Linked DNA regions of Homo sapiens: region 2 is linked to region 1. The links come from fine-mapping of genetic effects on gene expression. A gene starts in region 1. The other region holds a variant in brackets. All regions are shown on one strand. Distances are from middle to middle. Region 1 holds the start of SBNO2 (strawberry notch homolog 2). Region 2 overlaps SBNO2 (strawberry notch homolog 2).

Evidence for each region.
Region 2: its variant is fine-mapped to the expression of SBNO2 in monocytes after Pam3CSK4 (Quach 2016, PIP 0.92).

What each region holds. Positions count from the first base shown.
Region 1 is chr19:1,168,496-1,179,903 of GRCh38, forward strand. SBNO2 (strawberry notch homolog 2) reads right to left here and starts at 5,773. Exons shown (of 32, transcript NM_014963.3): 1 at 5,677-5,773. LOC102725180 (collagen alpha-1(VII) chain) reads left to right here and starts at 338. Exons shown (of 3, transcript XR_005647046.2): 1 at 338-1,741; 2 at 4,524-5,389; 3 at 6,065-6,498. It overlaps LOC102723798 (a long non-coding RNA gene), which reads left to right. Exons shown (of 4, transcript XR_007067079.1): 4 at 1-245. RefSeq lists enhancers at 4,141-4,699, 6,084-6,133, 8,889-10,088 and a silencer at 5,634-5,943.
Region 2 is chr19:1,127,860-1,139,267 of GRCh38, forward strand. All of the region lies in intron 4 of SBNO2 (strawberry notch homolog 2), which reads right to left. Among named protein-coding and RNA genes, the nearest start is that of GPX4, 30 kb to the left of the region's middle. RefSeq lists enhancers at 3,172-3,836, 5,165-5,828, 5,847-6,348, 6,349-6,848. The variant A/C (reference allele first, on the strand shown) is at 4,566.

The sequences.
Region 1 (11,408 bases):
TGGCCTTGGAACCCCCCTCACACCCATGGGTTCCAGGCACCCTGGCGGCTGTCTGTCCCCACGAAGCCTGGCCCTCTCACAGCGTAGGGAGGCTGCGGTCACCAGCGTGGGTCCCGCGACCCATTCCACCCGGCCCCTGGGCACCGGAAGCCAGGCGGCGAGCGCAGCAGACCCCAGAGGCAGCTTTCCTCAGTTTACCTGACATGCAAAGGAAGACGCCTCCTCACTCCAGGCTGGACGGGCAGCCGACGGCGGTCCGGGGCCATGGCGGGCAGGGACTTTCTCCGTGACCCTCCCTGGCTGCCCCTCCCCAGCAAGTGAGTCAGTTCCAGAAACGTTTACTGCCCGCCAGGCCCGAAGGCTCACCGGCTCCCCCTCCCCACGCCCCAGCACCCAGGGCCTTGGCCCCAGGAGCCCACAGCGGCAGAGACTCCCAGGAAACGCGAGTGAGCCGCCTTCCGGAACCTGGCGCACATCACTTTCAAAACGCAGCGGGGCCTGGAACCAAGGCCAAGGCCGCCTCTTTCGGTTTCACTTGGACGCTTGTTCTTGCTGGGGATGGAGGTCAATCACAAGGCTCCGGGAAGCACGGGCACGAGTCACAAAGCAGGTCACTGAGACAGCGGCACCAGGCCCGCCAGTCCGATCTGCTGACCCCAGCCAGGGCCCAGCACTCCCATGCCCTGCACTGCACGAGGCTGCCCGGGACAGTGCCTGCAGGGGAGATGACTCGGCAATGACTCTCTGGGCCCCTCCTCCCACCCCATCACTCATGGGGTTGTCCAGGGCAAGAGGCCCAGGGGAATCCGCAGGAGAGCCAGGGCACAGGGCACGAGTGCGGCCCCAGGCTGAGGCCTCCGTGGGACTGAGCTTCAGGGCCACGCTGCCATGCTGAGCTCTCACGGGGCCTCCGCCTGGACCACCAGGCACCCTCAGGCTGACTGGCCCCTGTGTGCCACCCATGTGGCCCAAGGCCTGTCCCCCTCATGCCAAGAGCCCCGTAGGGCCCCTTCGAGTAGAATGCAGCATTCCCTGCCCCTCCGAAGCAGTGAGTGGTTCAGGGGCAGAGCTGGGCCTGGGCGAGGGGCCCCCGGGGGGTGGGGTGATGCCATCACTGTTGCCGTCCTACGGGTTGAGACAGGACAGCTGCCCATCACCCCTTGATGCAAGCTGGCTGCAGGCTGCCTGACCAGTTCCCGGGGACACCGTGCTCAACCCTGTGGTGACAACTGGGGATTCCGAAGGACAGGGAGGTCTTACTTTCTGTTAAACACTTTTATTTTCCCTGAGATACAATCCACACCAGGAGGGGCACCTGTCCGGAGCATATGACTCAACGGTTTCAACGTATTCTAAGGCAGACCACCACAGCTTCTAATTCCAAAACATTCCGCTCCCCCAAAACACAGCCGTGTCCCCAACAGCAGTCACTCCCCCGCCTCTACAGCCCCTGCAACCACACGCCCACTTCTCTTCTGTGGACTGGCCTGCTCTGGACACGTGACCACACGTCTACCCCCCATCTGTGGACTGCCCTGCTCTGCACACGTCACATGAACGGAGTCACGTGCCGTGGCCTTTTGCGTCTGGCGTCTCTCCGCAAGCACGTCTCCGCAGAGCATCCATGCCGGGCGCACAGACGACAGATCTAATCTCCGCCTCCTCACGGGGCCCAGGAGGCCCAGGGCGAGAGCTGATGGGGCCCACGCATCCGAAATCCCCGTCTTGGCCAGAACCCCAGGTTTGCCTTCGCCCGCAGGGCTGAGCCCTCTCCTGAGTCCTGGGCCCTGTGACGGGTGACCACACCTCCCAGCAGGGAGGCAAGGTGACCACGGGGCTGGCAGTCTGCTCTTCGTCCCAGCCCGAGGGTGCAGGTGCCGGCCAACCTCCCGGGGGTTGGGGGCGAGAGTGCAGAGGCGAGGGGCAAGGCTGAGAGTCCACCCACACTGCCGGGCGGACAGCGGGCAGGCCAGGACGAGAACCAGGTTGGGGTGACCTCGCTTTTAGGCTTCAACCCGGCAGCTGGACACACCCAGCCCTCCCCGTGTGCTGTCTGACCACACAGCCCTCGGCTGTGGAAAAAGTGACTGGAGGTATTCCAGGCCTGCCCGCAACAAATCACACACACATGCACACAGGGACAGGCCACACACGTGCACACAACACACGCACACATACAAAACACACGTGCACAAGACATGCACAAGCAGGGGTGCATGAGAACACGCAGCACGCACACAACACACACAACGGACACGTGCATAACGGACACAGGTGCACAGGCAACATGCGGGCACACACAACATGCACACAAAGTACACGTTTGCATGAGCACGGGTGCAAAGGTCATACACATGCACCCACAACACAAACACACACAAAATACATGTGTGAGCAACACACGCAAGCATGGGCACATGGGCACAGGCAACACACACATGAGCACACACACAAAATACACACAACCACCAAAATACACACACACAACATACGAGGACAGGCACACAGGCACGGGCAACACACAAAATACAGACACACATAACCGACTCATGAACATGGGTACACACAGGCACACACACAACACAAACACGGGTGCACAGGCACACACAACACACAAACACGGATGCACAGACACGCACACAATGTGCACCCATAAAACACACGCGTATGAAACACACGAGCAACACACACATGCACAGGAGCACACAGCCACAGGCACGCACATTCACACACACACAACGCACCCACATCCGTACAACACACACACAGAACGCGCACACGTCCGTACGACGCACACACAGAATGCACGTGCGTACGTACAATGCACACAAAGAATACACACATCCATACAACACACAGGCACACAACACACATGTGCATGCACATGGCGCAACATACAGATACACAAAGACACGTGTACACACACATGCAGAGTCCCCAGGGCAGCGCTGGCGTCATGGGGGGCTGCCTCCACACCGCCTCCAGGAGTGTTTACAGCTGTGGATTACATGATACCGCCCCCTTCCCAGAGCTGATCCCACCCCCCAGCATGGGGGCCCCCTGGGAGGGGGCCTCTGGGAGCCGGACTGGTTCTGTCGACACAGTCGCCTCTTTGTTCGGGGCAGAGCTCACTCTGGCGGTGTTGGCGTTTCCGCATGGGCCCTGCCGGAGGGGCATCCGTGACTCCGCTGGAGCCGGGTTGGGCCAAGCCCAAGCTGGTCACACCCCTCACACCCCTGGGGTTGGGGGAGGCCTTAGGCAGCAAGTGGGTGGGGGGTCTAGGGGTGGCTGGCGCAACCTCTCTCCACCTCGGTTTCCCCGCCAGGTGAGAGGGCAGTGACTGCCCATGGTCACGCGGCTGGAGAACATGCACCCTCTCCTCCGCACCTGCACACCTGGGTGCCTCCTGTCTAGCCCAGACTCCAAAGCCAACCAAGAGTGAATGGATGAACGGAGAGGCCAGACCCCAAAGCAAACTGAGAGTGAATGGATGAGGGAAGCTCCTGCTGCCTCTTCTGTGCTCTGACAGGCTCCCTCCCCCTGAAGTCCAGCCCCTGCCTGCACAGCCCCCTCCACACCAGGGCCCTCCTGGCTCCTGGCAGGTGTGGGCAGATGTCTGCCGGGATCCTCAGAGTTAAACAAAAGCCTCCTCCCTGTGCTCTGAAATCACACTCCAGGGGCTGGCAGGCGCCTTCCAAGTCCTTCCCTCTCCAAGGACGAGAGCCTGCCTGCGTCTCCTCTGCCGTCTCCCCTGCCGTGGGAGGCCCTGAGGCCCCCATCCTGCTGTTCTCCATCCCACCCACCAAGGGGTCCAGATCTCAAATTCGCCCTTTCTCGGCAAGAACTCTGAAGGTGGCCCGGAGCAGGCCACTGTGAGAAGCCATCACCCCACGACCAGGGTCACCCCTGGGAAAATCTGGGGCCGGGCAGCCAGATCCCTGAAGGCCAGAGGATGTCTGGGAAGAAAGGGCGTGGACGGCACCTGCTGGGCCTGCCACAAACTCTCTGGGTCCCATGTCCCCGCTGCTCCTCTTCCAGGGCCGAGTCAGGGAGAGACATCCCAGGGAGGGCACCCGAAACAGCACAGCACCCCTCAGTCAGGAAGCAGTGCCGGCTGCCCTGGCCCGGAGGAAGAGGCCTGGAAGAAAGTTTGAAGCCTGTAATCCCCGTGTAATCGGGCTGGCTGCCCACGGGGTCTGCGGCCCTGGGTCCTCGGCCCCTCCCATGCTCTTCTCTTGAACCTCGGCTTCCTCTGCCCCTCTGTAAAACACTCACTGCAACCGCCCCCCCCGCCCCGGCAAACTGGCAGCCAGCATCAGCACAGGCCAGCTCCGAGGCCGGGCACTCTCGCTGACAGGGCGTGCAACAGATGGCACCAAACCTATCCCGTCCCGTCCCAGCAGTCACAGGCAGGAAGGACGTTCTGAGCAGGCGGGAACAACAGGCATTCCGGGAAGAAGCAGCCAGGGGAGGCCCCGGCTACACATTTAAGAGATTTTTTTTTTTTTTTTTTAACTTTTCAGAATGTTAATCAGTTCATCCAGGGAGACACCCACCGTCCCTGCCCCAGCACCATCCGTGCCCGGCGTCCCTGGAGGCGCTGGGTGGGCTCTCCACAACGCCTGCCCCCCACGCCCCAGGTCAGTCTGGGGATTGGTCCCTCCAGGCCCCACCTGCCTTATTCTTCGGGACTCTGGGGTGGTGGGAAGAGTGCCCTACGGGGGACAGGACCCACCAGGAGGCCTGCGCTTCCCCTTCACCGACACACGCTGCTCCCGGGCCCCACTCGGGCCATCTCAGCCCGCTACCCTCCCTCCCGCCTGTCCCTGGAAGCCGGGTTTGAATGCGACCCGCACTCCCACCCCCAACACGCTCTGCAGACTCCGCCCAGACGGCCCCGGGGTCACCTAATATCAGCAAGCCCCCATCCCAAACCGGGGGACCTCCATGCAGAAACCGAAAAACCATCTGCCCCAGAAGAGAAGTCGGAGGCCCCAGGAGCGGGAGGGGCGGGGAGCAAGGGGAGGGAGGGAGACAGGGCTGCGCTGCGGGGCCGAGAAGGCAAGGGTCCTGGGACCGGGGACAAGGAGGAGGAAGGGGCACGAACGCCCGAGGAGCCTGGAGTCAGGAATCGGGGCGGCGGGAGAGACCGGGGGTCACTCCCAGGAAGGGGTCGAGGTCACGAGGCGCATGGAGTCGAGAGTCCCCAAAAGGGAAGGCCAGGATACCGAGGAAAAGCGGGTGCGGGGTCACCAAGGGGCTCGGGGGCACCGATGAGTGCGGGGTCAAGGGTTACCAGAAAACGAAAGGTCGGGGGTCACCAAGCTGCGCGGTACAGGGAGTCACCCGGAAGAGCGGGAAGGAAAGGTTGGGAGGGTTGTCGTGGAAGGTAGGGTTAAGGTTCACGGCAGGGGGTCGCCGGGGGGCGGGGGGGCAGGTCAAGGTTCACGGCGGTGGTCGCGGGGCAGCGCGGGGTCAACGTTGGCGGCGAAGGGCGGGGTCGGAAGGGGTCGCGGCGGAGGGCGGGGGTCCCGCCGCGCTCGCCCCCGCCCCACGGCCCCCAGAACCCCCAGCCCCGGGCGCAGGGGTCCGCGGGGAGCGCCGGACCCACAAGCGGGGTCGGGCCAGGCAGGGGTCGCGGTGGAGCCGGGGCGGGGGTCGCAACCAGAGCCTCACCTCGGGCCCGGGTCCGGCCGGGCGCGGAGCCCGCGGCGCCTGTTTCTCCGAGCCTCGCAGCTGCCGCCGCTCACTTCCGGGTTTCGGGCGCCATCTTGGGGGCCCCGCGCACTTCCGGTCATGCCGCGGGGCGGGGCCTCCACCTGCGGGGGCGTGGTCTCGGTTCGGGGGCGGGGCCACCTTCCAAGCCAATCCCTTGAGGTCCTTCCGCTATTCGGAAGGGGCTGGGACTCCTACGGCTCTGGGTTCGAATCCCGCCCTGCCTGGTTCTCTTGAGACCCCAGCATGTGCTTTCACCTCCTCAAGCCTCAGTTTCCTCTTCTGCACCGTGCTGGTGAAATGGAATCTGCTTTGTGGTACAGCATCCCCTTTTTTCCTCCTTCCTCAGAACCCCCTCCAAGCCTCTGCATGTGCCACGTCCCCCACTGGGGCTCACTCACCCGAGACTTTTAAACTGAGACTCCCTCAAAAGCTACTAAGACGATCACCAGCCGGGCGCAGTGGCTCACGCCTGTAATCGCAGCACTTTGAGAGGCTGAGGCGGATGGATCACTTGAGGTCGGGAGTTTGAGGCCAACCTGGACAATATGATGAAACCCCGTCTCTACTAAATATACAAAAATTAGCTGGGCGTGATGGCGGGCACCTGTAATCCCAGCTACTCAGGAGGCTGAGGCAGTAGTATCGCTTGAACCTGGGAGGTAGTTATTGCAGTGAGCTGAGATCGCACCACTGCACTCCAGCCCGGGCAACAGAGTGAGACTCCATCTCAAAAATAAATAAATAAATAACGAAATAAAATAAAATGAAATAAAATCATCACCTCTGGGCCTGTCAGACATACTCTCTCACGAAAAGTTATCTCTGTTCATTAATCTCTCTCCCTAACCAAATACAGTTCTGGACGCTTCAGCATGGTGACTGGCACATGGGGGTTTGGGTAAGTCCCAGGGGCTACCCCCAAGAGAGCAGGATCCTTTCAGGCAGGGCCACGGGGGCCTGAGGGGCTCCTCCTCTCGGTGGCTGTGGTGGGAGGCTGCCCTGCGTGGGGAGCTGGAGTCTCAGGGCACTTTTCCTGTGACTTGAGCCAGTGAAGGCAGATCCAGTGTGGGAGGCACCACCGCCTCCCCAGCCCAATTTCAGCCATGACAATACTGATACAGCTCCCTGGACCCAAGCAGCCACAAGCCAGAGGCCTCTGCCCCCATTCCAACCCCCTGAAACTAGAGTTGATTTCTCCATGACTTTGTTAATTCATTCAGTGACTTCTAATCGATGCTGCTCTGTGCTTGGTCATGAGCTGGGAAAACCCAGGGTCTCACAGAGGACTCAGCTGTCTGTCCCAACATCAGAAAGCCCCTGGTCTAGGGGAGAGAGAACCAGGACCAGACACTCCAATATGCGGGATCTCTGGGAGGGTTGAAATGTCTGCCTAGGGCTTCATAGAGGGCTGCATGCTGAAGAGTGTGTTGAAGCTGGGGTTTTGAAGTTCAAGTAGGAGTGTACCAGGTAGACAAGAGTAGGAAGAACAGTCCGGGCAAAGAAGGCCTGGTAAGGCAGATAATAAGCAGGTTTAAGATATTTTAGCACCTCTCTAAAAAACTGAGGCCAAAAGCCAGGCACGGTGGCTCACGCCTGTAATCCCAGCACTACGGGAGTCTGAGGCAGGAGGAACACCTGAGGTCAGCGGTTTGAGACCAGCCTGGCCAACATGGTGAAACCCCATCTCTACTAAAAGTACAAAAAAGTTAGCTGGGCATGGTGGTGCCTGCCTGTATTCCCAGCTACTAGGGAGGCTGAGGCAGGAGAATCGCTTGAACCCAGGAGGTAGAGGTTGCAGTGAGCTGAGATCACACCACTGCACTCCAGCCTGGGCGATAGAGTGAGGTTCGGTCTCAAAAAAACAAACAAACAAAAAACGGTGGCTCACGCCTGTAATCCCAACACTTTGGGAGGCTGAGGTGGGTGAATCACCTAGGTCAGAAGTTCAACACCAGCCTGACGAACATGGTGAAACCCTGTCTCTACTAAAAATACAAAAATTAGCCAGGCGTGGTAGTGGGTGCCTGTAATCCTGACTACTCAGGAGGCTGAGGCAGGAGAATCACTTGAATCTGGGAGGCGGAGGTTGCAGTGAGCTGAGATCGCGCCATTGCACTCCAGCCTGGGTGACATGACAAGACCCCGTCTAAAAAAAAAAAAAAAAAAAAAATTTCAGGCCAAGGACCCCTGTCATCAAACCCAAAAGCACAAGGGGGCAGATGGGGAAACTCAGACCCAGAAGGCAGAAGTGATATGTCCAGAGTGAGATGCAGAAGGCGCACAAGGACATTTTGTCCTTCAGCTCATTGGGGGTCTCCTTTACCCATGGTGACAGAACGGCGTCCACCTGTTGTGAGCTTTTCCTCAGAGTCCCGCAGAGCAGCCGGACCCGACAGAGATACTTCCCTCCACACTGAATCTCTTTTTTTTTTTTTTTTTTTTGGGACGGAGTCTGGCTCTGTCGCCCAGGCTGGAGTGCAGTGGCGCAATCTCAGCTCACTGCAAGCTCCACCTCCCAGGTTCATGCCATTCTCCTGCCTCAGCCTCCTGAGTAGCTGGGACTGCAGGCGCCCGCCACCACCCCGGCTAATTTTTTGTATTTTTAGTAGAGACGGGGTTTCACCGTGTTAGCCAGGATGGTCTCGATCTCCTGACCTCGTGATCCGCCCGCCTCGGCCACCCAAAGTGCTGGGATTACGGGCGTGAGCCAACGCACCCGGCCAAATCTCCTTTTTTTTGAGATGGAGTCTTGCTGTGTCTCCCAGGCCGGAGTGCAATGGCATGACCTCTGCCTCCCGGTTTTGGCAAACTGGGTGCTCATCTCAACTTTGAGACTATTTTCTCTTTTTTTTGAGATGGAGTTTCACTCCTGTTGCCCAGGCTGGAGTGCATTGGCGCAATCTTGGCCCACTGCAACCTCCTCCTCCCCTGTTCAAGTGGTTATCCTGCCTCAGCCTGCCAAGTAGCTGGGATTACAGGCATGTGCCACCATGCCCAGCTAATTTTGTATTTTCCGTAGAAATAGGGTTTCTCCATGTTGGTCAGGCTGGTCTCAAACTCCTGACCTCAGGTGATCTGCCTGCCTCGGCCTCCCAAAGTGCTGGGATTACAGGCATGAGCCACCGTGCCTGGCTGAGACTCTTTTCACAGCAAATTGAACAGCAGTTAAATTGAGCAATAGGCACTAAAGATTTGGAAGGGTGAGGAAGCCAGCCTGGGGACTGGAGGGTGGCGGCTGCATCTGCTCATTTCCTCCCACACTGGACCATCCACACAACTTTTGAGGATCAGTGGAAATGAAAACACGGTGCCCCGGCACAAAACATATTTCATAGCTTGGGTTAGGCAACAGCAAAGCATCACGCTGAGCGCCGGGACCTTCTGAGTGCAGGCGGTGGGCGAAGCCCCGAGTCACACACACCCACGACGCCGGCCCTGCTCCCACAGCGGCCCTCTGGGGTAGCGACTGGTATTACCTGCATTTCACGAGGGAGGAAACTGAGGCACGAACTGTTCAGAAGCTGCCCTGAGGTCACCAAGTGAGCTAGGAAGAGGCGTGGGCTCGATCTCTGCCACATCCACCTCGGGAAACCACAAGGTCTCGATGGGTGATTTTGCCTAAAGTGGGGGCAGTTTGCCCAGGCCGGGGTGGGTCCAGCCATCTCAGCAGGCAGGAATCTGCCAAGTTGGGGGATGCTTAGGGAATTAGTCAGATGCGGGGATTTCCAGGGAATCACAGGGGGTGGCTCCGGAAAGCAGCAGGGACACAGTACTGGGGCTCATGGCCCAGCCTGGAGTACAGTGCTGTGAATCTGCTGTGTGACCCAAGGAGAGTTACTTAACCTCTCTGTGCCCCGGTTTTCCCACCTATAAAATGGGGAGGGTGATAATAATAGCAACTAGTGGCCGGGCACGGTGGCTTATACCTGTAATCCCAGCACTTTGGGAGGCTGAGACGGGAAGATCACGAGGTCAAGAGATTGAGACCATCCTGGATAACATGGTGAAACCCTGTCTCTACTAAAAATACAAAAATAAGCCGGACATGATGGTACGTACCTGTGGTCCCAACCACTCCGGAGGCTGAGGCAGGAGAATCGCTTGAACCCGGGAGGCGGAGGTTGCAATGAGCTGAGATCGCACCACTGCACTCCAGCCTGGGCAACAGAGCAAGACTCTGTCTCAAAAAAAATAATAATAATGATAATAATAATAATAGCAACTAGCTGCTAGGTTGTTCAGACAACTCAATGGACAGACAGTGCCTAATAGAATTTAACCACTACGAATATTTCCAAATGAAATTCTTTTTTTTTTTTTTTTTGAGACGAAGTCTGGCCCTTTCACCCAGGCTGGAGTGCAGGGGCATGAGCTCAACTTAGTGCAACCCCTGCCTCTTGGGTCCAAGTGATTATCTTGCCTCAGCCTCCCAAGTAGCTGGGATTACAGGCACGTGCCACCATGCCCGGCTAATTTTTGTATTTTCAGTAGAGGCAGGGTTTCACCATGTTGACCAGGATGGTCTCGAGCTCTTGACCTCGTGATCCGCCTGCCTTGGCCTCCCATATTGCTGGGATTCCAGGCTTGAGCCACCCTAGGGAAATTCTTGATTTTCCTCGGCCCAGTCCATGGCGTCACTGAAGTGGATGTTCAATGAGAAAATAATAAGGATGAATGCTGCAGTTGGAGTTCAAGAGAGGAGGCATTTTTGACGCCACAGATGGGCAGAGATGGGGTGAGGGCCCTGGCCGGCACCAGCTCTCCTGGCTCAGACTTTGGAAGCCGCCCCCCAGGGGAGACGCTCAACTGGTCAGAGGTGTGGATAGCCCCGTCCCCCAGTAGTCCCACCCCGCAGAGAGCTCTCAGGCTTCCAGCTCTGGCCCAGGCCCAGGTCCTCGGTGCCATGTGAAGGGTGGAGAGCTCTCCTGGGGGACAGAGTTGTACATTTGTGGAGGTTTTCTGGTGGGGCTGTGTTTGACGTCAACACTCTCCTCCCTAAACCCTCCCTCTTCCCCATCCCATACAGGTCCTCCTAAATGTCTTCCCAGCCCCTTCGAGAGAATTGTGGAAGTGGGGTTGCCAGATCAAACACAAGACACCCAGTTAAAATTCAACTGTAGGTACGTGACGAGTACTTTTTGTTGCTGCTGCTGTTGTTGTTCTTGTTGTTTTTGAGACGGAGTCTCGCTCCGTTGACAAGAAGGCTGGAGTGCAGTGGCGCGATCTTGGCTCACTGCAACCTCCACCTCCCGGGTTCAAGTAATTCTCTGCCTCAGCCTCCCGAGTAGCTGGGACTACAGGCACCCGCCGCCACACCCGGCTAATTTTTTGTATTTTTAGTAGAGACGGGGTTCCACCATCCTGGCCAGGCTGGTCTTGAACTCCTGACCTCGTGATCCACCTGCCTCAGCCTCCCAAAGTGCCAGGATTACAGGCGTGAGCCACTGCGCCCAGGCTTTGTTGTTGTTTGAGACTGGGAATCACCCTGTCGCCCAGGCTGGAGTGCAGTGGTATAGTCACAGCCCACTGCAGCCTCTGCCTGCTGCGCTCAAGCAATCCTCCCCAGTCAGCCTCCTAAGTAGCTGGGACTACAGGTATGCACCACCATGCCTGGCCAATTTTTTTACTTTTTATAGAGACGGGGTTTCACCATTTTACCCAGATTAGTCTTGAACTCCTGAGCTCAAGCA
Region 2 (11,408 bases), 41 kb before region 1:
CTCCACACACTGGAGCATGTGGGAATGGGAGACACCACGGCCCTCCCAGGTTCAAGCAATTCTCCTGCCTCATCCTCCCAAGTAGCAGGGATTACAGGTGTGCGCCACCATGCCCAGCTAATTTTTTTGTATTTTTACTAGGGACGGGGTTTCACCATGTTGGCCAGCCTGGTTTTGAACTCCTGACCTCAAGTGATCTGCCTGCTTCGGCATCCAAAAGTGTTGGGATTACAGGCGTGAGCCACCATGTGACAGAGCGAGAGAGTGAGACTCCGTCTCAAAAAAGAAAAAAATAAACAAGCAATGGGTGAGAAACACCAACCCTCAGGGCCACGCAGGACGGCGTCTGACTTCTGCAGCACCTGAAGGGCAGCAATGCTGCAGGAACTCTGAGCAGCTCGGGTCTGGGGTGAGCCTGGTGCCATGCCCTGTGCCGGAGGCAGGGGCGGGGGCAGCCACGCCCAGAGGTGGGGCTCGCCATGGGGATGACACACACACACGCGCTGCCCAGTGAAGGAGATGTATGTACATCATTTCATTTTTTTTTTTTTGAGACGGATTCTTACACTGTCGCCCGGGCTGGAGTGCAATGGTGTGATCTCGTCTCACTGCACCCTCTGCCTCCCAGGTGCAAGCGATTCTCCTGCCTCAGCCTCCCGAGTAGCTGGGATTACAGGCACGTGCCACCACGCCCAGCTAATTTTTGTATTTTTAGTAGAGACGGGGTTTCACCGTGTTGGTCAGGCTGGTCTCGAACTCCTGACCTCAGGTGATCCATCCACCTTGGCCTCCCAAAGTGCTGGGATTACAGGCGTGAGCCACCGTGTCCGGCCACATGTGATGTCTCACGCCTGTAATCCCAGCACTTGGAGGCCAAGGTGGAAGATTGCTTGAGTCCAGGAGTTCAAGATTCGCCTGGACAATATGGCAAAACCCCATTTCTACTAAAAATACAAAAATTAGCTGGGTGTGGTGGTGCATGCCCGTAGTCCCAGCTACTCGGGGGGCTGAGGCGGGAGGATCACCTGAGCCCAGAGGGGTCAAGGCTGCAGTGAGCTGTTACTGCACAACTACATTCCAGCCTGGGTGACAGAGCAAGACTCTGTCTCAAAAAAAAAAAAAATAGACTGGGCATGGTAGCTCACGCCTGTAACCCCAGCACTTTGAGAAGCCAAGGTGGGCAGATCACCTGAGGTCAGGAGTTCAAGACCAGCCTGACCAATATGGTAAAACCCTGTCTTTACTAAAAACACAAAAATTAGCTGGGCATGGTGGTGCGTGCCTGTAATCCTAGCTACTCGAGAGGCTGGGGCAGGAGAACTGCTTGAACTCAGGAGGCAGAGGCTGCAGTGGGCTGAGATCGTGCCATTGCACTCCAGTCTGGGTGACACAGGGAGACTCCATCTCAAGAAAAACAAACAAAGAAAAAAACCAGGCATGTCAAGGGGGCGCTGTCTCTCCCTGGAAGCTGTGGGTTCCGTCCCCCTCACCTTGCTCAGCTTTGCCCACTGCCCACCCTGTCAGACCCAAGCACCTGGGCACTGATCACTAGGGACCTTCAGGAACCTGCCCCCAAACAGAGACCCCCGGGACAGAGGTGTCCATGCTGCCCGCCTGAGGCCCAGAGCCAGGTAGGGTGCAGCACCCCCCACCCCAGGAGGGTAGGAGCAGTCCACCTCCCAGAGCCTCTGGAGGCCCCGATCGGCAGGGTTGGGGAGCATTCATCCCACTGAGGCCCACGAGGGCCCTCCGGACACTGCCCACCCAGGCTGCAGAGGGCCTGGTCACGCTGACCTGTGGCCCGGACCCTCCGTGGAAGCATTTCCCGGGCAAGGTCAGGGGCTCCTGAGTTGGTCAAGGCCCCAGCCAGGAGCGGGGGTGAGTTGCTATCGGGCCCAGAACCGCCCAGGCCTTGGTGGTGCAGGGAGCGCAGGCAGAGCGGAGGAGAGCTCCCCAAACCCAAATGCGTGGGTCACACGGCCAGTCCTTCCCCGGAGCTCAGCGTGGACAGAGGGAAGGGACCTCAGGCAGAGACACCTGCCCCACGCCCTCACCAGGTGCCCTTGGCCCAAGAAGACAGGACAACAGGGTCCTCCCGCCCAGGGTCCTCCACCCAAAACTCCTGCCCCAGTCTGAGGAAACACCAGCCCGACTACTCCAGGGCATCCACACCACCCGACCAGCCCCAGGACCGCCCAACGCATCTGAAACACGGGCCTCTGAGAAACCATCACAGCCCAGAGGGGCCTGAGGAGACGCCTAAACACCACGTGGGGTCCTGGGCAGGAAAGGACATGGGGGAAACTGAGGCAATCCAAGCAAAGCGTGGGCCTCAGGAGTTAACGGTGGCGTACGGATGTTGGTTCATCAGCCGTGACAGCCACAGACGGGAGATAGAACAGCAGGGAGCCCGGGAGTGGGTGCACGGGGACTCTCTGCACTGTCCCTGCAGCTTTTCTGTCATTCTAAAACAGTTTGAAAAGTTAAAGTCAAGTCGGGCAGGGGGGAGCTCACGTCTGCTACTCAGGAGGCTGAGGCAGGAGGATCCGTTGAGCCCAGGTGGTCGAGGCTGCAGTGAGCTATAATTGCGCCACTGCACGCCAGCCTGGGAGACAGAGCGAGACCCTATCTCAAAAAAAAAGTTAAAAGTCAAGCAGGGCGTAGTGGCTCATGCCTGTAATCCTACTGTTTTAGAGCCAAGGTGAAAGAATCACTTGAGCCCAGGAGTTCAAGACCAGCCTGGGCAACACAGCAAGACTCCATGTCTACAGAACGTTTAAAAATTAGCTGGGCATGGCAGCATGTGCCTGCAGTCCCAGCTACTCAGGAGGCTGAGGTGGGAGGATTGCTTCAACCCAGTTGGTGGAGGTTGCAGGGAGCCGAGATCGTGCCACTGCACACCAGCCTGGGTGACAGAGCAAGTCCCTGTCACAAAAACAAATAAATAAAAGTGAAAGTCTAATAATGAGGGAGTGCTTGCAGCTTTCAGGCTTCAAGAACGCAGCCTCGAGGCCCCGCCCTGCTCCCCGTCCGGTCCTTCCCAGCACAGGACACCCCACCAGGTGCATGAGCCCTCGAAGCCTTCACTTCTAGCAGGTGCCCTCAGCGATTAGGGACAGAGGGAGACGGGGTTCCCAGGGCTGGCCCTGTTCACATGTGGGAAGCTGAACAGAGCCAGGCCAGCTCCCCCCACAGTGGCTCCGTCCTCTGCCCACATCTGGATTTGACTCCTAGCAGCCACCAGCTCACCTCAGAGACAGCCTAAGTCCCACCCGCGCCTGTGTGTCCCTCCACAGCCCCTCCAGGCCGGCCCAGGCTCCTGCATCCTTCACCACATGACCCACCCACCCTCCAGCCTCAGCTCAGCGGACCCAGTGCCTCCCCAGGGAACCGGGCCCCTCTGCAGTCTGTAGTGAGGGCAAGCACCAAGGCCCCTCAAGGGTGACACTTGCATCCCTCCCCGCCAGCCCCCAGTTCTGGGGCCCCAGGGAGGGCCGGGGCTGCCCGCTGTGGTTCTTGTCTCTGTAGCATTTCAGGAGCCCTGGGCTGAGGTGGGGAGCTGGGAGGACCTGGCTGGGAGGACCTGGCTCTGCCCGCTTCAAAAGCAGCAGACACAGCTCCTCCTGCCCTGGGCAGCCAACTCCAGACCTGACTCCAGAACTGACTCCAGACCTGATGTGCTGCCGCTGCCCTGTGCTCCAGGACCCATGGGGAGCCACAGAGCCACAGGGATTTGCCGGCCTGCGCCACCAGAGCCAGCCCTGACCAGGCCCACCCAGCCTCCGCTCCCTACAAGAGCCCCATAAGACACCCAGAGCCCCTCCACCTGAGGCTTCTCCAGAGGAAAGCCACAGCTCTGGGTCCTACCCCAGGGGCAGAAGGAGGGGGACGCAGCCCTCCCGACAGCCACTGCCACTGTCACTGAGGGCCCCCGTCCGGGCAGGGCTGAGCCCGACCCCCCCACTCCGCTCGGGTCCCCCAGCCTACGCACAGGGCGCCGCTCCCAGCCCGAAGTCTTAAATCTCTGCCTCGGAACCTTCCGGCAGATTCCCTCTCACTGCCAGAAGAGACGGACGGGGCGGGGTGGGGATTTTTTTAGATCCTGGCGGCCTCGGACTCTAGGATGAGATGCCGGCTGCTCCGGCAGGGGGCCCGGCCGTCCTGAATGGGGTCCCACCTCCCAGACCCCTGCCCCCGAGGGCCTCGCCCGCCCCGGGAAGGGAGTGTTACCTTGTTCAGAGCCTCAAACTGCAGCCACAGCTGCAGCTGGGACATGGTCCCGGCGCTCGGGGGGCCAGGGGTCCCCCAGGAAGCGCTGCCCGGGAGCGGCTCCCTCATGACCGCGGCAGCAGCCCCAGCATTGGGTCGGCCGGGGCGGACGGGGGCGGCTCTCCGCCCGGCTGCATTTGCATGTCGGTTTAGTCACCGCCGCCGGCGCCTACTTCCTCTAAGGCCGGGGCTGACTTTCAGGAAATGATGCCGGCCCCGTAAGTCAGGGCAATTACCGGCAGTGCGAGGAGAATTACTGTACGGGGCGGATCTCCCACAGGCGCTGTCAACACGCA[A/C]CCCCACCCGTGCCCCGCCGCAGGACCAGCCCCCTTTGGGGCACCCGGCGGACGTGCAGAATGCCCAGGTGGGCATGGGCCTCGGTCTCCCCAGACTGCAGGGAGCTGGGTTCCGTTCCACGGGGACCAGCTGCTGTTCCTGGTGCCCCCAAACCACAGGCAGGGAAACTGCGGCCAAGACCGCCTCCCTTCACCCAGCACCCCACGCATGCCAAGCGCACCTCAGGCCCTGCTGCGCCCCCCTGGGGCTCTCCCCACCCCACCCCTGCAGGCTGAGGTCCCCGAGAAGCCCCTGCCGCCGAAGCAAAGTCCCCTCCCTGCTCTTTCCCTGCTGTCCGTGCCCAGGGGGTTCAGCGGGCCCCGTGGCCTCCCTTGATCTGGGGCTGGCGGAGGGAGAGCTGAGCCTGGGCCCCTCCTCTCCAGGCTCTGGCCAGACCCGGCCTCGGCCCCCTGGGCAGGAACAAGTGGTAGCGTCCTGGGAAAAGAACGTTCTCGCTTTGGTAGAAAACCAAGTGTCAATGATGCACTTGCTGGGGCAACCCCGGGCCGCGAGCCCGCCCGCGGCCACACTCTTGCCCGCACTGTGAGGACCCTGGCGCATCACAGGGGCCTAGACACCGCGGGGCAGACACCTGATGGGACCTCACATTGGGCCACAGGCGGTCATTCTCGGTGTCCTTGGAGGAGCTGGGGAGGCCCCAGGGCCAGAGGGGGTGGGAGGACGGCCGGGCTGTGGAGAGGACGGGCCCCATCTGCCTGTACTCAGCGACTGACGGGGCAGAGGCCGCATTGCCCACGAGACCGCGGCCGAGACCGCGCAGGTGGCCACGGCTCCTCCTCTGTGAGGGGAGGAAGGGCCCGGCCCTGTGGCCAGGGGCCCTGGGAAAGAAGGAAACCGCCCCGAGAGGCCAGGGGAGCCCGTGGCTGGGCCGGAGGGCTCGGGACAGTTCTGGGCTTGTAAGACTCCCGCCAGGGCTCTGAGGGGAGAGTGGGACCAGGGGGCCCTCAAACCCTGTGCACTCCGCCCCCTCGGGCTCACCCTGTTCTAGACCCTGAGGCCCTGTGCCAGCCCCACTGGGGCCCCGCGACCAGGCACCGCAGCAGCGGAGGCTGGTGCAGACTGTCGCCCACACCCCTTGCCACGACCCATCACCTCCTGGAGGCTGGGCGACAACACGGGTCCGTGCCGCTGGGGCGAGGGGCCCGCCTGCCAGGCACCCCGCCCGCCAATGGAAAACAACCAATGGGGAAGAAACCCACGGAGCCGCTCAATCCGGCAGCCAATCACAGCCACCGCTCAACCTAGCAGCCAATCACAGCCACCGCTCAACCCAGTAGCCAATCACAGCCACCGCTCAACCCAGCAGCCAATCACAGCCACTCCCAGAGACAGCTCCACACCAGCTCCACGCAAAAAACCCACAACCACAAGCGCTGCTGAGGACGCGGGGCAGTGGCCTGGGAACCATCCTGCAGCTCCTCAAAAGAGGCGAATGGGGAGTAACAACCCAGCAGCTGCACTCCCACGTGCCATCAGGAGGACCCACAGCTCACAAAAGCCTGAACCTACAGCTCAGGAGTGGACCCACAGCCCACAGGACCCACAGCTCAAGGGTGGACTCACAGCTCACAGGACCCATAGCTCATGGGTGGACCCACAGCTCATAGGCGCCTGGACCCACAGCTCATGGGTGGACCCACAGCCCATAGGACCCACAGCTCACGGGTGGACTCACAGCTCACGGGTGGACTCACAGCTCACGGGTGGACTCACAGCTCACAGGTGGACCCACAGCTCACAGGACCTACAGCTCACGGGTGGACTCACAGCTCATAGGCACCTGGACCCACAGCTCACGGGTGGACTCACAGCTCACAGGACCTACAGCTCACGGGTGGACCCACAGCTCCCGGGTGGACCCTCAGCTCCCAGGTGGACCCACAGCTCATGACAGCCTGGCTCCTGCAGCGCAGTCACCACGGAGGAACAGGGCCAGCACAGTGAGGCCGTCCACACACTGGAACACGACCCAGCCATGAAAAGGAGCAAGGCTCTGACCCAAGCCACAGCACGGATGCACCTTGAGGACCTCACACTCAGTGAAAGACGCCAAACACAGAAGGCCACGCAGTGTGTGAGGCCATTTCTATGAAATGTCCTGTCCTGAACAGGAATCCACACAGACAGGAAAAGCATTCAGGTTATCAGGGGGTGGGGATGGGCTGGGGAGTGACAGCTGATGGGAACGGGGCTTCCTGTGGGATGATGGAATGTTCTGGAACTAGACAGAGGTGGTGGTTGCACAACTCTGTGAATATACTTTTTTAAAGTGTGGATTTGGGCCCGGCACGGTGGCTTACGCCTGTAATCCCAGCACTTTGGGAGGCCGAGGTGGGTGGATCACGAGGTCAGGAGTTCAAGACCAGCCTGGCCAGCATGGTGAAACCCCGTCTCTACTAAAAATACAAAAATTAGCCAGGTGTGGTGGTGGGTACCTGCAATCCCAGCTACTCGGGAGGCTGAGGCAGGAGAATTGCTTGAACCCGGGAGGCAGAGGTTACAGTGAGCTGAAATCGTGCCACTGCACTCTAGCCTGGGCAACAGAGCAAGACTCTGTCTCAAAAAAAAAAAAAAAAAAAAAAAAGGTGGATTTGGCCGAGCGTAGTGGCTCACACCTGCCATCCCGGCACTTTGGGAAGCTGAGGTGGGCAAACAGCTTGAGCCCAGGAAGTTCAAGACCAGCCTGGGCAACATAGTGAGATCCCATCTCCACAAAAAATACAAAAACCAGCTGCGCATGGTGGCGGGCACCTGTGGTCCCAGCTGCTCAGGAGGCCATGGCAGGAGAATCACTTGAGCTAGAGAGGTGGAAGCTGCAGTAAGTTATGATCACACCACTGCACTCCAGCCTGGGCAACAGAGCAAAATACTGTCTCAAATAAATAAAGTGGATTTTGTGGTATGTGAATTTTGTCTCAGTTTTTAAAAGACCTGGAAAGCAACGAAACAGAAAGAACAAGCACAGACTCCGACTTGCTCCCCAGGCCCCAATGTGACAGCACAGCCCAGGGTCCCTGGAGCAGGTCAGACTGAGGATAGGGGTGCGCCGCCTAGGGACCTGCTGGGCACTACCCCACCCACCTCCGGCGCCCCGCGCCCAGTCCTGGGCTCCCGTGGCCCGGTCTCTCCCTCCGCCTCTGTCCAGGGTGCACCCCTCACTGACCAGTCCCGCAGCAACGCTGACCGAGGGCTCCGTGTAAGCCTGGCTGAATGCCCGCTGCCTCAGCCCTCACAGGAACCCTGCCCTGCATTACAGGGAGGGAAACAGGCTACGGGGATGGGAGGGGCTCCTCCTGGAGGGGGCTGGGGGGCAGACAGAAGAGGCTTCCAGGTGGTCGTGGGGCACAGGTGGCACTTCCTAGACACTGCCAGTCTTTGGTGGCTGGGAGAAGGGCCCCTCAGCAGGCCTGGTCACTAGAGTGCCCCGTGCAGAGCTGAACTGTGTCCCCAAAATGGTGTGATCATGTCCTGGCACCTGGAAGCTGTGTGTGTGGCCTTATTTGGGAATCCGGTCCTTGCAGATGTGAGTGGTTAAAAAAAAAAAGGCCGCACTGGCCGAGCGGGTGTTCTGTGCCTGGTGTCCTCATTCGAAGGAGACACAGTCCCGGGGAGGAGGCCACGGGACACAGAAGCAGAGATCCCAGCCCTGCGGCCACAGCCAGGGGATGCCCGGATCCCCCAGATGCTGGAGGGGCCGGAAGGAGCGCGGCCCTGTCCGCACCTTGACTTTGGACTTCCAGGCTCCAGGGCTGGGAGGGGACAGAGTCCTGGCCTTTGAAGCTGTGTGTGCTGCTTCCTCACAGCAGCCCTGGGAGGCTGGCACGGCTCCCCAGGAAACTGGGCTCCCTTCTGTCAGGGTTCCGGCCAGGTGCCTGGTATGGGCCCTGGGGCCGCCGCCTCAGTGTCTTCTGGTGCTGCAGCCGGGCAGGGCCGAACCCTGGCGCACAGCTTCCTGCTGAGTCTCCCTCTCTAAGGCTGTCTGTGGGCGGCTCTGCCGGCCCCTCCTGCACCTGCCCAGGCCCTGGGCGGAGGCTCCTCCTCCCGGGGGGGCTGTGGCCTCAGCACAGACCAGGGGACAGAAGGTGGCTCTTCTTGGCCTTGGCTGGGTGTGAACCAAAGACTTCCTGTAAGAAATCCCCCTCTCCCTCTCCCTCCTTCGCTCCCTCATCTCTCTCCCTCTTTTTTGCCCAATGCCAGTAACTGTGGGGGCTCCGTGGTGCCGGATGGGCCGAGGCATCTGACCCCTGCTGAAACGCATCTGCAGAACAGTCAATGCTGCCTGCCTCCCTGCCTGAAAGCAGCCAGAGTTTGCAAAGCGCTTTTCTGAGCCGTGAGCTCATCCTGAGCTTCCCAGAAGCCCCCGGGCTGCCAGGCAGAGAGTGTTGTTACCGGACAGCTGCGTTCCCAATGGTCCCTGCAGCCCCATGGGGACCCGGGATGGATGCCCGGCAGGTGGAGAGGTCCTCACAGGACAGGTGGTGGGCAAGGGGGCAGCACCTGGGGAATGGGGATGGGCTGTGGGTGCCGAGAGCCCCAGGAGCCCAGCAGAGACGCAAGGGATCTGGGTGATGTCAGGAAGGGTGAAGGAGCACCCCCACCCCAGGAACAGGCGGCAAGGGATGGGCGAGGGGCAGTGAGGCGAGCAGGACCTGGGGAATGTCCTGTGTAGGGGCACAGGCTGGGGAGAGGCTTGGGCTGGGGTGCGGTTGGGGGAGGCTGGCACTGGGGTGCAGTGGAGGAGAGGCTCGGGCTGGGGTACAGTGGGGGGAGGCTCAGGCTGGGGTGAGGCTCGGGCCGGGGTGCGGTGGGGGGAGGCTCGGGCCGGGGTGCGGTGGGGGGAGGCTCGGGCCGGGGTGCGGTGGGGGGAGGCTCGGGCCGGGGTGCAGTGGGGGGAGGCTCGGGCCGGGGTGCGGTGAGGGGAGGCTCGGGCCGGGGTGCGGTTGGGGGAGGCTGGCACTGGGGTGCAGTGGAGGAGAGGCTCGGGCTGGGGTGCAGTGGGGGGAGGCTCGGGCTGGGGGGGTGAGGCTCGGGCTGGGGTGCGGTGGGGGGAGGTTCGGGCTGGGGTGCGGTGGGGGGAGGCTCGGGCTGGGGTGCGGTGGGGGGAGGCTCGGGCTGGGGTGCGGTGGGGGGAGGCTCGGGCTGGGGTGCAGTGGGGGGAGGCTCGGGCTGGGGTGCAGTGGGGGGAGGCTCGGGCTGGGGTGCAGTGGGGGGAGGCTCAGGCTGGGGGGAGGCTCGGGCTGGGGTGCGGTGGGGGGAGGCTCGGGCTGGGGTGCGGTGGGGGGAGGCTCGGGCTGGGGTGCGGTGGGGGGAGGCTCGGGCTGGGGTGCAGTGGGGGGAGGCTCAGGCTGGGGGGAGGCTCGGGCTGGGGTGCGGTGGGGGGAGGTTCGGGCTGGGGTGCGGTGGGGGGAGGCTCGGGCTGGGGTGCGGTGGGGGGAGGCTCGGGCTGGGGTGCGGTGGGGGGAGGCTCGGGCTGGGGTGCAGTGGGGGGAGGCTCGGGCTGGGGTGCAGTGGGGGGAGGCTCAGGCTGGGGGGAGGCTCGGGCTGGGGTGCGGTGGGGGGAGGCTCGGGCTGGGGTGCGGTGGGGGGAGGCTCGGGCTGGGGTGCGGTGGGGGGAGGCTCGGGCTGGGGTGCGGTGGGGGGAGGCTCGGGCTGGGGTGCAGTGGGGGGAGGCTCAGGCTGGGGGGAGGCTCGGGCTGGGGTGCGGTGGGGGGAGGCTCGGGCTGGGGTGTGGTGGGGAGGAGACCAGAAGAGGCACCAGGGGCTGCCCTGGGGGACACTCACCCCACACAGAAACAGGTGCCGGAGAGCCTGGGGGTGGGGCCGCGAGGCTGGGCTGGGCCTGGAGCAGGGGACCCACGGGAGGCTCTGGGCACAGAGGGTGGGCTGCAGCAGCAAGGGCCCCTTATCCTCGAGCAGGAACCCAACACCCCCCAGCCAGACCCAGTCATGCCTGGAACACACAGACATGGACCTGCATATGGACGCTGCTAACAGCGATTCACAGCTGCTGTCAACCCATACCTACTCCTGGGTATGAGCCCAAGAGAAACGAAAACGTGTCCACTGGGAAGTTTGCACCCGTGCTCACGGCGGCACAACTCACGACGGCCACGGGTGGAAGCAGCACAAGCGTCCATCACGGACACACAGACAGACACAGTGGGGCCCTCCACGCCTCCATCACAGACAGACACAGTGGGGCCCTCCACGCCTCCATCACAGACGGACACAGTGGGGCCCTCCACGCCTCCATCACAGACAGACACAGTTGGTCCTCCACGCCTCCATCACGGACAGACACAGTGGGGCCCTCCACGCCTCCATCACGGACAGACACAGTTGGTCCTCCACGCCTCCATCACGGACAGACACAGTGGGGCCCTCCATGCGTCCATCACGGACAGACACAGTGGGTCCTCCACGCGTCCATCACAGACAGACACAGTGGGGCCCTCCACAGGTCCATCACGGACACATGGACAGACACAGTGGGCCCCTCCACGCGTCCATCACAGACAGACACTGTGGTACCTGGTACCTCCACGCGTCTATCATGAACAAAAACAGTGGGTCCTCCACGCGTCCATCATGAACAAAAACAGTGGGTCCTGCATGCGTCCATCATGGACAAACAAGGTGGGGCCCCTTCATGTGCCGGAACACGGCTCAGCCATAATCAGGAGCCAGGCTCTGACCCAGCCATAGCTCGGATGTACCTTGAGGACATCACACTCAGTGAGAGACGCCAGAGGCAGGAGGCCATGCAGCGTGTGATCCCATTT